2 separate regions of the Homo sapiens genome follow, and region 2 is linked to region 1. The links come from fine-mapping of genetic effects on gene expression. Tissue or cell type: whole blood. Region 1 holds a variant in brackets; the other region holds the start of a gene. All regions are shown on one strand. Distances are between the middles of the regions.

The links. PIP is the estimated chance that this variant, and not a neighbour inherited with it, causes the effect.
Region 2: it holds the start of OXSR1, and the variant in region 1 is fine-mapped to the expression of OXSR1 in whole blood (INTERVAL, PIP 0.96).

What each region holds. Positions count from the first base shown.
Region 1 is chr3:38,378,495-38,386,600 of GRCh38, forward strand. XYLB (xylulokinase) reads left to right here. Exons shown (of 19, transcript NM_005108.4): 15 at 752-848. Among named protein-coding and RNA genes, the nearest start is that of XYLB, 36 kb to the left of the region's middle. The variant G/A (reference allele first, on the strand shown) is at 3,513.
Region 2 is chr3:38,161,192-38,169,297 of GRCh38, forward strand. It overlaps OXSR1 (oxidative stress responsive kinase 1), which reads left to right and starts at 4,346. Exons shown (of 18, transcript NM_005109.3): 1 at 4,346-4,755. The coding sequence starts at 4,686. It overlaps LOC101928234 (a long non-coding RNA gene), which reads right to left and starts at 4,285. Exons shown (of 5, transcript XR_940733.2): 1 at 4,206-4,285; 2 at 1,757-1,806. RefSeq lists enhancers at 3,021-4,220, 3,381-3,460, 3,611-3,740, 4,011-4,110, 4,504-5,119 and silencers at 4,351-4,740, 4,791-4,840.

The DNA.
Region 1 (8,106 bases):
GGGCGGGTTGGAGACTTACCCTGGGTGGGGTGATCAAGCCTGGGCGTCTCTGAGAAGGTGGCCTTTAGGTTGAGACCTGAAAGTACTCAGGATCTCACCATGGAAAGAGTAGGATAGACTTTCAGGCAGAGGGAGCAGCTTGGGAACTAGAAGAAGGTCAGTAAGGTTAGAGTGTAGCTGTTTATGAGGGGGATGGCGGCAGGTTCTAGCATTGGTCTCAGGTGCCAGAGAAGCAGGAGTGAGCCTGGGGTTGATGCCCATCAGTGCTAGCTTGAAGGACATGCCACAGGGGTGGGATCTCAGCGTAAGCTCGTGGCTCTCACTTATCTAGTATGTACTGCATTTTCCAGGCTCTGTTGTCTAATCTGATCATTGCAACAACCCTAAAAAACAGGCGCCACTATTACCTCTGTTTTGTTAAGAAAAAGAATGATAGCAAGACTAATGTAACTTATTGAAGATTGCAGAGCTGAATGGTAGACAGAACTTGAACTCTCAGCTGCCTGAGACTAAGTTCTGTAATGTCTCTTGACTCTCTTCAAAGTGACATGCATGTGAGGCTGTGAGCTTGTGTGCTTGAGTAGTGTGTTTGTGTGAGTGTGTGTGACAGGCAAAGATAGTGGTTAAAGAGCCCAGCTATGAGTTTCAAATCTGGGCTGTTGTTTAAAAAGATCACACACAGACACACACATACACACACGAATGGACAATGAGAGTTCCTTACTCTGTGCCCACCTTTTCCTGGAGACAGGTTGCAGCATTCCCTGGGGATGTGGAGGTTCGAGCACTAATTGAAGGACAATTCATGGCCAAGAGGATTCACGCAGAAGGCCTGGGCTATCGAGTCAGTAAGTGAGCCACTGGCAGCATGTGTCCCGGGGTGGGGGCTCAGGGCCAGCTCACTCGCAGGGGCCAGGGCTAGTGGGGCAATATCTACTAAAGTTTTCTTACAGGGGGACTTGTGCAGGAGGGAGGTGGAGCCTGACCTCAGGGATGGGGTGAGAAAGTGTCAATTGGCACTTGTAGGCAAGCATAGAATAGCAGACAGGTTGTTCCCGCTTCTCAGCTGTGTCCACAATAGCCTGACCTTTTGGCCAGGACCTGTAAGACTTCGGAATGGTCTTTCTGAAACCCTAAGCTCCAAGCTGCAGATGAGCTGTCCTGAGCTCTGGACTGCAAAGACATAGGCAGTGCAAGGTCTGGGGACATGAATGGATCTTGGCCTTCTAGCCTGGCCAGGTCCCATTGCCTGTGGGACACAGTCTGGGTCTTTCAGCTTGGACAGGGAAGAGGGGGATGTAGTACCACTGTCAAAACTCGGAAGACTGATGTCTTAGTTCATTTTCTGTTGCCTATAACAGAATACCTGTTCCTGGGTAATTTATAAGGAAAAGAAATTTATTTCTTACAGTTATGGAGGCTGAGAAGTCCAAGGTTGAGGGGCCATATCTGAAGAGGGCCTGCTTGCTAGTAGGGCTCTCTGCAGAGTCCTGAGGAGGTAGAGGGCATCACATGGTGAGGGAGCTGAGTGTGCTGGCTCAGGTCTCCCTTCCTCTTCTCAGAAAGCCACCAGTCCCGTTCCCACGATAACCCGTTAATCCATTAACCTGTTACTTTGTTAACCCATGAATGGATTAATCCACTCATAAAGCCCTCATGACCCAATCTCCTTAAAGGTCCCATCTTTCAATATGTCATGTTGGAGATAAAGCTTCAACATGAGTTTTGGAGGGGACACATATTCAAACCATAGCAACTGGCATGGAGAGGGCAGACCCAGGGCCGGGGGAGGCAAAAGGAGGAGAAAGGGATTTCTGACAACTTGAGCTGTAGAATAATCAGCATTAGGATGTCAGTGAGTTCCCCTTACAGGTGGCGTTGGAATGGTCTAAGGGTCTGTAAGGAGGTTGGACTGGCCGCCTATAGAGTCCAGGTTTCTAAGATGTATTTGTCTCTCTGGGCTATAGCTGTTGTCATTAGAGAAGATAGTGAAGCTGCTTTGCTTGAGGGCCTTCCTATGATACTCTATGGACAATCCAAGTTCTATGTAATATATATTTTATACCTTTGAATCAACTGAGTAAAAGGATACTATAAAAATACCTATTAGGGAAACCTCTTAGAAAACCTGTTAGACAGCATCTGCTAAAGCTGAATATACGCCTACCCAGCAATCTCATTTCTAAGTAAAGGCACAACAGGAATTTTTGCATGTGTTTACTAAAGATGTACAGGAGAACATTCATTGCAGTACTATGCTGAATAGCCCCACAGTGGAAGTGGCCCAGTGCCCATTAATAGTAGACAGAAAAAATGCATTGTGGTGCATTTGTACAACAGGATACTACACACAAATGAAAATGAACCAGCCTCAGTGATCCACAATGAAATGGGTGAATCTCACCAAATGTAACACTGAGCAAAAGAGGCCAAACATGGACATACATATGGCAGGGGTCTCTGTACATCAAATTCAAAAGCAGATGGCACTACAGGCCAGGCACAGTGGCTCACACCTGTAATCTCCACATTTTGGGAGGCCGAGGCAGGTGGATTGCTTGAGTCCAGGAGTTCGAGACCAGACTGGGCAACATGGTGTGTTGCGGGAAGTCAGGGACCCCAAACGGAGGGACTGGCTGAAGCCATGGCAGAAGAATGTGGATTGTGAAGATTTCATGGACATTTATTAGTTCCCCAAATTAATACTTTTATAATTTCTTACACCTGTCTTTACTGCAATCTCTAAACATAAATTGTAAAGATTTCATGGACACTTATCACTTCCCCAATCAATACCCTTGTGATTTCCTATGCCTGTCTTTACTTTAATCTCTTGATCCTGTCAGCTGAGGAGGATATATCGCCTCAGGACCCTGTAATAATTGCATTAACTGCACAAATTGTACAGCATGTGTGTTTGAGCAATGTGAAGTGTGGGCACCTTGAAAAAAGAACAGGATAACAGCAATTGTTCAGGGAATAAGAGAGATAACCTTAAACTCTGACTGCTGGTGAGCTGGGCAGAACAGAACCATGTTTCTCTTCCTTCAAAAGCAAATGGGAAAAATATCGCTGAATTCTTTTTCTCAGCATGGAACATCCCTGAAAAAGAGAATGTGCGCCTGCGGGTAGGTCTCTGAACTGGCCCCCCTGGGCGTAGCCTGTCTCTTATGGTTGAGGCTGCAGAGATGAAATAAACTCCAGTCTCCCATAGTGCTCCCAGGCTTATTAGGAAGAGGAAATTCCCACCTAATAAATTTTGGTCAGACTGGTTGATCCCAAAACCCTGTCTCCTGATAAGATGTTACCAATGACAATGGTGCCCGAAACTTCATTAGCAATTTTAATTTCACCTCGGTCCTGTGGTCCTGTGATCTCACCCTGCCTCCACTTGCCTTGTGATATTCTATTATCCTGTTAAGTACTTGATGTCTGTCACCCACACCTATTCGCACACTCCCTCCCCTTTTGAAAATCCCTAATAAAAACTTGCTGGTTTTTGTGGCTTGTGG[G/A]GCATCACGGATCCTACCAACGTGGGATGTCTCCCCCAGACACCCAGCTTTAAAATTTCTCTCTTTTGTACTCTGTCCCTTTGTTTCTCAAGCCAGCCGATGCTTAGGAAAAATGGAAAAGAACCTACGTGATTATCGGGGCAGGTTCCCCGATAATGGTGAAACCCCTTCTCTACAAAAAATACGAAAATTAGCCAGGCGTGGTGGCACATGCCTGTAGTCCCAGCTACTCAGGAGACTGAGGTGGGAGGATCGCTTAAGCCTAGGAGGTTGAGGCTGCAGTGAGCCATGAGACCCTGTCTCAAAAAAAATAAAAAAAGCAGATGAAACTATTTACTATTGTTGGAAGTCGGGATAATTAGTAGTTACCTTTCAGAAGGGGCCTGTGGGGTGCTGTCAATGTTCTGTTTCATGTTCCATGGGTGTGTTTAGTTTTTAAAAATTTATGAACATTATAGGCTTATGATGTGTGCATTTTTCAGGATGTGTGTTCTAGGTCAATACAAGATTTTAACATGTGTAAAATGACCACCATGAGCATTCTGATTGCCCTCATCCCACCACCCTAAGTGTAAAAAGACGTTTCCTAAAGGTCTGCAAAGACTTCCAAGTTCCCTGAAAATGAGACTGGGTGAGCAGGGCAGGGTTGGTGCTGGAGTTGGTGGAGTGCCTGGCAGGGGTCCTCCGGCTGTCAGAAGAGAACCCCAGGGAACGGAACAGCCCAGCATACAGGGAGAAGCAGTTAGGGCAAAAGGCCCCCATGGGCTCAGGAGGAGCTGATGGGATTGTGGCATTATTCCCAGCCTCTAAGGCATTTCTTGTGCAAAACAGCATAGAGTTACTTATCCTCTTAGCAAGCTTAAATGCAGAATCAGACCTGTCTTGCCGCTCTGCTGAGTGATCACTTAAATAGACATACTTGGAACCAACAGAGGTTGCACGCACGTGAGGACTCATTCTCCAGGCTGCTGTGTGGACTGGCCAGCTCTTTCGTTCTTGCCCAGACATCATCTCATTTGGCTTTAATAGTGTCTAAGGGCAATAAAGAGGCACTTTGAATAAAAATGATTATTGTGATACTAACAGCTGCCAGCATTTGTTGGGCACTGAGTGTGTGCCCGGCCCAGTTCCTTAGCAATTAATCTTTATTAACAACAGTACCGCTGAAGTAGGTACTGATATGATTCCCACTTCACAACCGAGGAAACCAAATCTTGCAGTGGTTAAATAACTTGGTCAGGGCTGGCAGAGCTGGGATCTGAACCAAGCCAGTCTGGCTCCAGATGCTGGATTCTCAACCACTGGCTGAACCTGCTTTTTTTAAGGAACAATCGCCCTCTTGATGTTTATAGACACCATCAGACATGATAGAAACCAGCTGGGCAGGGCTAATAAGCCATAGTTTTCAGTTTATATTTCAGTGTGTTTCATGTTGTTTAGGTTGATTGTAAAAACAGTCAAATCTTGTAATAACAAGTTTGAAAAATAAAGAAAATGGGCCTGGTGCTCACACCTGTAATCCCAGCACTTTGGGAGGTGGAGGCGGGAGGATCACTTGAGCCCAGGAGTTTGAGACTGGCAACAGAGAGACCATATCTTCACAAATAATAATAATTATAAATATCCCAGTATAGTGGCATGTGCTTGTGGTCCCAGCTACTGGGGGTGGGGTGGCAGGGGTGGCAGGAGGCCGGGGGGATCGCTGGAGCCTGGGAGGTCAAGGCTGCAATGAGCTGTGATTGCACCACTTCACTCTAGCCTGGGCGACAGAGCGAGACCATGTCTCAAAAAAATAAAGGAAAATGACTCATAATCCCATCCCCTCTCTCCAACCACTGGTATCATTTAGGGACATTTTCTCCCAGTCTCCTTTATGAGCTTATTTCCATACAGCCATAGTTTTGTTCCTTTGTACCTTATATGCAAAGGGTGTATACAAGAACCAAAGTTTGTCAGAAGTCATCTTTGTGGTGCTGCGTATGATGGCCAGGTTACTTTTCCTGCATTTGGGCACTGAGGGTGTTCTTGTTTTTTTTGTTTGTTTGTTTTCTTTGTTTTGTTTTGTTTTGTTTTTCTGGAGACAGGGTTTCACTCCTGTTGCCCAGACTGGAGTGCAGTGGTGTGATCTTGGCTCACTACAACCTCCGCCTCCCGGGTTCAAGTGATCCTCCTGCCTCAGTCTCCTAAGTAACTGGGACTACAGGTGCACACCACCACGCCCAGCTAGTTTTGTATTTTTAGTAGAGACGGGGTTTCACCGTGTTGGCCAAGCTGGTCTCGAACTTCTGACCTCAAATGATCCACCTGCCTCGGCCTCCCAAAGTGCTGGGATTGCAAGTGTGAGCCACCGTGCCTGGCCATTGTTCTTGGTTTTCCAACGTGGAATCACACTAGAGCATCTTCCATAGCTTGAATTATTTCCCCAGGAGGATGGCAGTCCTTCTCTCTTCCCAGACACTGTCTTCACGGCCAGCGATGAAGATGGGAGAAGCTGAGAGGTGGGGGCTGAATGTCTTCTTCTGGACAGAGCCAAGGGGCTGGATGGAAAGCAGCAGGTCTTAAAAACAACTATTTGTTTTAAAATACATAACGAATGGATGTCTTTTTATCACAAAAGATTCATGCAAAACAGAAATATGGAATAAGAAGCAAATGCCCCCTTCATTTGCCTCCCAGACTCCTTTCCTTCTTTCCAGACTGTGACTTCCTTCCTGTGAGTTTCTGTGTTAGATTGAATCATACGGAATTGCCAATATTGAAGAAGTTTTGATTTACAAAAATGGCAATTTCATATGGTTCGACCTGACACGTGTGTGTGTGTATATATTTAACAGAAATGCTATTACATTCTATGTGTTATTCTGAGACTTGCTTTCCATAACAGTATGTACAGGTCTACCTTTTTGTTTTCTAATGACTGGCATGAGGTCTGATAAATTATTTTATAGCCCTAGTTGAAGGACATTAAGATTATTTCTTGTTTTGTTTTGTTTTTGTTTTTGTTCTTGTTTTGAGACAGAGTCTCACTCTGTCACCCAGGCTGGAGTGCAGTGGTACAATCTCAGCTCACTGCAACCTTCGCCTCCCGGGTTCAAGCGATTCTTGCACCTCAGCCACCTGAGTAGCTGGGATTACAGGTGCGCGCCATACCACCTGGCTAATTTTTGTATTTTTGTAGAGACGGGGTTTCGCCATGTTGCCTAGGCTGGTCTCAAACTCTTGACCTCACGTGATCCACTCATCTTGGCCTCCAAAGTGCTGGGATTGTAACCTCCACTTTCACCATCTCATTCTATGCCCTATACCCTTGTCCCTAGTTCATTCTTGTTTGTGTATTTTTTTTCCCTTGAGCATGTTAGCTAAAGGTTGGTATATTTTATTAAGCAATGTTAATATTTTGTTTTGTGCTCCCTTTTATTAATTTCTAATTTTATCTTTTTAAATGCTTTCCTTCTACTTTATGAATTTTTTCTTTTTCTGTATTTTTAAGTTGAAATTTTAGCTCATTTATTCCTATCCTGTATTAACTTCTAATTTATGCATTTCAGAATGCTACATGTTAACTTTATTTACATAACATATCTTTCATTTCTAAAAAGATAGTAATTTTCATCTTTTTCTGCATCAGTGAGTGGTCCTTCAAACTGGCCCCTCGTCCTTTTGACATATCTTCCATCATTCCTTGAGCATTTCCATAGCTTCTAGTATAAAAAAAGTTTCAGGCTCATCTTGTTTTTTCCTTGGATCAGCCTTGTAATCTTCCATTTATCCAAGGGGCCCTGACTTCTCTGAGTGGGAGAGATGTTTGGATGCTCTCTCTGGATGCTCATTGCTACTGGGATGATGCTGTTCCCAGCCCCTTTCAGTGGGCTGAGCTGGGAATATGTAAGGATATATAACAACCCCTTTCAGTGGGCTGAGCTGGGAAATATTAGGATATATATATACATATCCAAATATATATATGTCTGTATCAATACACACGTTACCTTTCTATTTGTCTGTCTGTCTACTTCTCCATGTGTTGAAAAACATGAGTTCAACCCTATACACTCTACTTCCAGTCCAACACCATGGGGTTCATTCTGGCTTTCTTCCTTCCCATATTTGTATCTTATCCTAACAGTGACAAAGTTGATTCTTCTGACCCCTCCAGATTGCTGCCTCCTTGACATGCAAGCCCCATTTTGGCTTCTCTGCTTACCCTTACCTGTGTTGTCTCTGTGTCGTCTCTCCAGCAGCCTCTTGAATCTGCCCCACTCTGGTTATGTACTTACATGTGGCCCTTGAGCCACTTCTGTTTGCCTATTTAATGGCTTTTTAGAGAAGGAAGAAGAAAAAAGAAAGGTAGGAAGGTAGACAGGCAATAAATATTTTTAAAGGGAAGGGTCCATTTACATTTAATGTAATTATTGAAATGATTGGATTTAATTGAATCTATCCATTTATTTTTTATTTTTTTAATCCATCCATTTACAAAATGGATTACATATCAATTTTTCTTTTTCTTTTCTTTTGTTCTATATGTTCTTTTTTCTTTCTTATTCTTTTCCTGTCTTATTTTTGGATTAACTGAGCAATGTCTAGTATTCCA
Region 2 (8,106 bases), 220 kb before region 1:
CATTACGTATTTCATGCGTTATATTTCATGTATATTTCATGTATAATATATTTCATGTATATATTTCATGTATATTTCATGTATATTTCATGTATATTTCATATACATATTTCATATACTATGCATATTTCATATACATATTTCATATACAATGCATATTTCATATACATATTTCATATACAATGCATATTTCATATACATATTTCATATACAATGCATATTTCATATACATATTTCATTTACATAATATAGTTCATATATTATGTATATTTCATTTACATAATATAGTTCATATATTATGTATATTTCATTTACATAATATAGTTCATATATTATGTATATTTCATTTACATAATATAGTTCATATATTATGTATATTTCATATACATGTCATATATTATGTATATTTCATATACATATGTCATATATTATGTATATTTCATATACATATGTCATATATTATGTATATTTCATATACATGTCATATATTATGTATATTTCATATACATATGTCATATATTATGTATATTTCATATACATATGTCATATATTATGTATATTTCATATACATATGTCATATATTATGTATATTTCATATACATATGTCATATATTATGTATATTTCATATACATATGTCATATATTATGTATATTTCATATACATATGTCATATATTATGTATATTTCATATACATATGTCATATATTATGTATATTTCATATACATATGTCATATATTATGTATATTTCATATACATATTTCATATATTATGTATATTTCATATACATATTTCATATATTATGTATATTTCATATACATATTTCATATATTATGTATATTTCATATACATATTTCATATATTATGTAATTTCATATACATATTTCATATATTATGTATATTTCATATACATATTTCATATATTATGTATATTTCATATACATAATATATTTCATATATTATGTATATTTCATATATTATAGATTTCATATATATTATATATTTCATATATTATAGATTTCATATATATTATATATTTCATATATTATAGATTTCATATATATTATATATTTCATATATTATAGATTTCATATATTATATATTTCATATATATTATATATTTCATATATTATAGATTTCATATATATTATAGATTTCATATATATTATAGATTTCATGTTATATATTTCATATATATTATAGATTTCATGTTGTTTCATATATGTTATATATTTCATATTTCATATATATTTATATATAGTATATATACTTCATACATATTGTCTATATTTCATATATAATACATATATAATTTCTTTTTTTCTTTTTTGAGATGGAGTCTCACTCTCTGTCGCTAAGGCTGGAGTGCAGTGGCATGATCTTGGCTCACTACAACCTCTGCCTCCTGGGTTCAAGCGATTCTCCTGCCTCAACCTCCTGAGTAGCTGGGATTACAGGCGCCAGCCACCACGCGTGGCTAATTTTTGTATTTTTAGTAGAGATGGGATTTTACCCTGTTGGCCAGGCTGGTCTCGAACTCCTGACCTCAGGTGATCCACCTGCCTGGGCCTCCCAAAATGCTGGGATTGCAGGTTTGAGTCACCGTGCCAGGGAGAAAAAAACAAAACAAAATAAAACAAAACAAAACAAAAACAAAACTGAAGTATGTCCATGGGTCATACAACTCAACAACCCCAAGCCAAGAATTTCTGGTTTGTAGACCTTTCTATTGGTACAAACCTTGAGGCTAATTCTTACCATCAGATTTAGCTCCTTTCTGATACATTTGATCCCCATCCCTCTCCTCCCTGCAAAAAGAAAAAGGCAGAACATATGGTAAAGAAACTGTCAGTAGTAATGGCTGAAAACCACTTACAGCAAGGCCTGTGCTATGCTTTCTGGAACTGCGGCACCTTTGCTGAGCCTGGACTATTCTATCCTCTAAATGTGCACCTGTTGAAATCATGTTAACTTTGCAAGATCTGGTACAAATGCTACCTTCTTCATGAAACGTTCTCCAATCCAACCAACTAGGTGGAAACCCGCTAGTAGCTTCTAGTTGACTGGTTTCATGGTCAGTTGGACCTCCCACAGCAGAGCTCAGCGCAGAGCTTCCAGTGCTTGGCGGTGTTTTAGAACCAAACTAAGGTCTACTTGCCCAGTGCAGTGACATTAGATTGCCACACGGAGGTTTTGCTGCAGTAGAAAGGCAGGGCGCCTAGCAAGAGGGGAGAATTAGTGTAGCTCAAGCTTAATATATATATAAATATACATTATATATAATACATATTTCATAAACTTATGAAATACATACTGGGGACCTAAACTTCCTGGCGTGAGCCACCGCGCCCAGCCAAGCATTCTTAAAGATAGGGGTAATTTCGGAAAAGAAGAAGTTACAGGTAAAGTCATAAATCAATACACAGAGGTTATACATTGGTTTGACCTAAAAAGGGGGGACATCTCCAAGCAGGAGCCCACAGGTCATAGGTGGATTCAAAGATTTTCTGATTTGCGATTGATAAAAGAGGTGAAGCTTTGTCTAAAAATTTCGGATCAGTAGAAAAGAATGTTAGCTACAGCTTGTGGGCATGACCTTCTTCAGGAAGAAGAAACTTAGAGAAAAAACAAACCACCAGTCAGAGTTCAGTCCTTAGCTCCCCATTCTCTGAGGTCTATGTGCCAGCAGATCCATTTGGTGGGGGTCTGGGTTTCTAAAAAACAACTCAGGGACATGTGTTGATGTTATCTTTAGTTTTTATAGGGAACCAAACATCCAGTTATTTTAGTTTCTTTGGCTAATGTTTAAAGTTATTACTGCCCTCTTGCTTATCAAGGGGTTCATTAACTTTTCAAGGCTAGCTAAGTGCCGGGAATTTCTCTTGAAGTAACTCAAGATTTTCCTTTATTTCCATGGTTGAGGGCCTGCAGGCCCTAAAAGGGGTCCCTGCTCCGTCTCAGCTGGGCCTAGGTGAAGGTCTCTTCCTTTTTCTGAGACGGTGTCTCCGTCTGTTGCCCAGACTGGAGTGCAGTGGCATGCTCTCGGGTCACTGCAACCTTCGCCTCCTGCTTCAGCCTCCCTAGTAGCTGGGATTACAGGCGCCAGCCACCACGCCCAGCGATTTTTCTGTATTTTAGTAGAGAGGGAGTTTCACCATGTTGGTCAGGATGGTCTCGAACTCCTGACCTCAGGTGGTCCGCCCGCCTCCGCCTCCCAAAGTGTTGGGATTACAGGCGTGAGCCACCGCACCCGGCCTAAGGTCTCTTCCTTAAAGACTGCCGTTGGACTGAAAGGTGTCCAACCTAGAACAGTTTCGCACCTAGCCCTATCCCTGTTGGATGCTCATTATTTTTTAAAATCCAATTTACCAAGCGTGTTCAGTCTTCAGCTCGCTAATTTCTCTAACGGCCGTACGTAGTCAAACTGAGAAAACTGTTCAGTGGGGGCGACAAAAGCCAACGCCCGTGAGACAACCCCCAAATCCGTGGGTCGATCTCACTTGTTTAATACCCCAAGCCCTGTCCGGGGGGAAGAAAGACAACCTCCCGAGTCCCTCAAGGCAGGTGCTTATTTGAGCTTCAGATCTAAAGCTGCGAATGGACAGAACCCGCCCAGTGCAGGGTGGACCCGCGAGAGACAGCGCCGCGACAAGCGTTAGAGAGAACGTCCGCCTTGAAAAAAATGTCACCAGGCAAACTTCCAGTTTCACTCCGACCAGTGGCCCAAGGCCTTTTATCCTAGTTGGCAGTGGTCCACACCCAAAGGCTACCCCACCCAGCCGCTCCCTCAGGGTTTCTCCACACCCTGTAGAGCCTTTCGCACGTCTCGAGGGTGTGACGGTTACGCCGTGACGTCACTCCAGAGGAAGTGGTAAGACGAGCGCGGTAACGGAGCTCTTGAAGGGCTGCAGCCCTAACACGGAGAAGCGCGCTAAGAGCCTGGAGGCGGGACCAATTTATGACTGACGTCTACCCACACCCATTGCTTTTCTGATTCCTTCTCAAACAAACCAATGAATGCGACGACGGAGACAGCAGCGTGCCCCAGGCGCTAGAAGTGGCTCTGCCCCTTCTACTTTGCTGCCCTTTGGTCGCCATGCTTAGTGTGGCTACTGCCTCTGTGCTACTTGAGGCTCTCCTACGGCTTTTCGATGCCTTCGATGAACCTCTACCTAAGCACTTCTTCCCTTTCACCGCGAACTCCTACCTTCTCGGGTTTCTAGCTTGCTCACTTTACATCCAGCCACACTGGAGATGGCGGCCGGAGGCGGGCCCGAGGTGGGGCGTGACCAGCGCAGTGACGTCAGCGCGCTGCGTGTCGGCAGGTGGAGGAAGAGGGGAAAGTTTGGCCCGTGCGTGGGGCTGGGGTGGAGGGCGGGACAGAGGGGCTGGGCCCAGGCAAAGCTTCTGTCGCTGCTGCTGCGGAGGCCGAGGACAGGACGTGGGCTGGGCCGGGCAGTGCCGGACTCGGAGGAGCAGGAGGCGAGGTCCGCCGGAGCTCTGAGCCCCCGCTGCTCTGCCGCGCGGTGACCCCGCGCCCCGGCGCCGTCCGACCCGTGGCTGTTCCGAGACGATTGGTGGGGGCGCGGCGGCGGCGGCGGCGGCTGTTGGGGGTGGGGAGACGCGCGGCGAGGAGACGAGCGAGGTCAGCGAGTTTGAGGGAGGACCGCGAGCCGCTGCCGCCGTCATGTCCGAGGACTCGAGCGCCCTGCCCTGGTCCATCAACAGGGACGATTACGAGCTGCAGGAGGTGATCGGTGAGAGCAGGCGCTGCGGAGGGGGGAGGCGCGGCGCTGGGAGGCGGGGGACACGGGAACGTGGGGAGCCGCGGGAGCTCGGGGAGCGCAGCCCTCATAGGAATTCGTGGGGCGCTTGTGGGGCTGGGGGCTTGTAGGACGCTTGTGTCGAGGAGCGCGTGTGAGACGGGAAGGGGGTTTTGAGGCGCGCGCCTGTGAGGTGGCGTGGGGTGGGGTGAGGCTTGAGGGGGCTCAGGAGAGATTTGTGTACAGGATTCTCAAATGTGTGGACAGGAGCGGCCCATGTGTCTTGTAGAGAAAGAAAGTGCAGGTGTGGGACAGGCCTTTCCGAGGCTGTGTGAGAAATGGGATCTTGAAGTGGGCACAGCCATCGATTTCTGGGATTGTGGGATAGATAGGGAGCTTTAAGTTTTTCCTCCATCCGTGCTGGGGCGAACTGGGGATCCTCCAGGTGAAGCTGCAGGAACCGCGCTGAGCAACCGAGACCCAACTTACGACTCCTTCCAACTGACTTTCCAGTCGGGGAGGTAGACATTAAATAAGAAGACAAAAAGAAGTAAGAAGGGCTGGGCGTGGTGGCTCACGCCTGTAATCCCACCACTTTGGGAGGCCGAGGCGGGCGGATCACGAGGTCGGGGGTTCGAGACCAGCCTGGCCAATATGGTGAAACCCCGTCTCTACTAAAAATACAAAAATTAGTTGGGTGTGGTGGTGCGCGCCTGTAATCCCAGCTACTCGGGAGGCTGAGGCAGAAGAATCCTTGAACCCGGGAGGCGGAGCTTGCAGTGAGCTGAGATCGCGCCACTGCACTCCAGCCTGGGCGACAAACCCTGACTCTGACTCAAAAAAAAAAAAAAAAAAAAAAAAATTTGAAGAGGCTTTGGCAAGTGCCATGAAGGAGATAAACAAGATGTTCTGATAGAGAATAACCTGGAGATCTACTTAGGGTGATTTCAAGGAAAATTCTTTTTCTGAGGCGATAACATTTCAGTTGAGCCCTGAAGCATGAGAAGTGAGGATTAAGAGCCTCGGGAAGATTTTTCCTTACAGAGGGATATAGAGATGCAGTGGCCTTGAGTAAGGGAAGAGCTTGATTTGTTTTAGGACCTGAAGGAAGGCTGGCAAGGATAGAGAGGGAAGGGAGGAGCCAGATCTTAGGGATCTTCTCAGCTTTGGTACAGATTTTGGAATTTTAAGTATCACTGGAGGCCCTCAAATAGTGCCTTGACGTGATCCGATAAATTGGGCTGGTGTGTGAAAAGATTTGAAGGGGGTCCAGGAATACCAGTTGGCAGAGACCAAAACTTGCACATAGATTGTAATTCTCACAGAAGCCTAGGGATTGGGAGGAGGCTGGGGACTGGGGATGAGGGGAGTATTTGTTGGACAACAATAACCCAGTGACCTTGGAAATCAAAATGTTTAGCTATACAGGCTCAATCCAACGGACATGAGCAGACACCTGTGTATTGGAGGAAGGCGAATTATCTGCTTTGCCAGCATCCTGCCCTAAAATTAGTTTTATAACAAAGACCAACTGAAGACTTCCTAGCTGCCTTGGGGGTGTCAGTGTTTATTTCACTGTGGGTTTAAAAAGAACTTCGTGAAATAATTTTTGTTTTTACTTGCCTCTTGTTTTAAGACAATCTGGGCTTAAAGCAATATTGGTTCGTATAGGAAAAACAAAAACAAAACAAAACAACTCGGACTAAATAAAGACATCACATCTTTGCTTAAGCCACTTCATGGGCCTGTGTCCTTGCTACATATTGGGTCTTTGACATGTATTCGTTGGTTCTAAAGACAGCTAGTTCCCGGTCTGGACTGATTGCTTCTGGTTCCCCCAGTCAGAGTTTCATATTGAAGGAAAGGATTAAATGGAAGATTCCAAAATGATGTCAGAGAAGTAAAGAGGAGGTTCCCTATCATCATTTTAAAAGAAGAGTTTTTTTTTTTTTTTTCTGGTAGTGTATCCATCTTTCTAGGGTGAAGAGGATGGTTGTAGTCATTCTCAAAGCCTTTGCTGTTAAGGTGGCAGAGAATTTCAGAGTTGCAAAGGCGCTAGAGATTTCGTGATTTGTTAATTTGGTGTCCTCAGACCCATAGGATGTCTGTGAGTGGGCAAAAGGGAGTCTCTCAGTCTTCTGGATAGGGTTAGTGTTCCTCACATTCACAAAGTGGTCCATGGTTTTTAAAAGGTTAGGAACTCCAATGTGATTTGACCATCTTTCATAGATTTAAAACAACTTTACTGAGGTATAATTTAATATAAAATTCACCCATTTTAAGTGTAACATTTAGTGGTTTTTAGTAAATTCCCTGTGTCGTACAACTATCACCATAATCCAGTTTTAGAATATTTCCATCATCCCCGTGAGATCTCTTGTGCTTTCTTACGAGTTAATCCCTTTTTCCACCTCCAGCCTTAGACAACCACAAATCTACTTTTTGTCTCTATGGACTTGCCTTTTTTGGACATTTATATAAATGGGATCATATAACATGTGGTCTTTCATGTTTGGTTTCTTCCACTTAGCATAAATATTTTTTCATTTAAAAAAACAATTTTGAGATATAATTTACGTACCATAAGATTTACCTGATTAAAATGTACAATTCAATAATCTTTTAGTAAATTTACATAATTGTTCAGTCATCACCACAATCCAATTTTAGAACATTTCCATCATTCCAGAAAGATGCCTCATGTCCATTTGCAGTTACTCCCTGTTCCCACCCCCAGCCCCAGGCAATCACAAATATACTTTCTGTCTCTATAGATTTGTCCTTTCTGGACATTTTATGTAAATGTAATCATATAATATGTGGTCCTTTGTGTTTGGCTTCTTTTACTTTCCATAATGCTTTTTGAGGTTCATCCATCTGCCATGTAGTACATGGTTCCTTTTTATTGGATACCAGTTAATGGGCATTGGATTGTTTCTGCTTTTTGGCTGTTTGGAACAAGGCTGCTTTGAGTATTCACATCAAGTCACCCCATGAATATGTTTCATTTTTCTTGGATGTATACCCAGGAGTGGAATTGCTGGGTTATATCACAAATTCAACTGTTTAAGAAACTGCCAAACTGATTTTCAAAGTAACTGTACCATTTTATGTTCCTACTAGTAATTATAAGAGTTCTTGTTTCTCTAAATTTGTTGTCTTTTTGCGTGTAACCATCCTAGTGACTATGAAGTGGTATCTCATTGTGGTTTTGATTTGCATTGCCCTAATGACTAATGATGATGAACATCCTTTCATGTCCTTATTTATTAGACTTTCATGGATCTTCTTTGGTGAAATATCTATTCAAATCTTTTGTCCACTTGGACTGCCCATTGGGTTGTT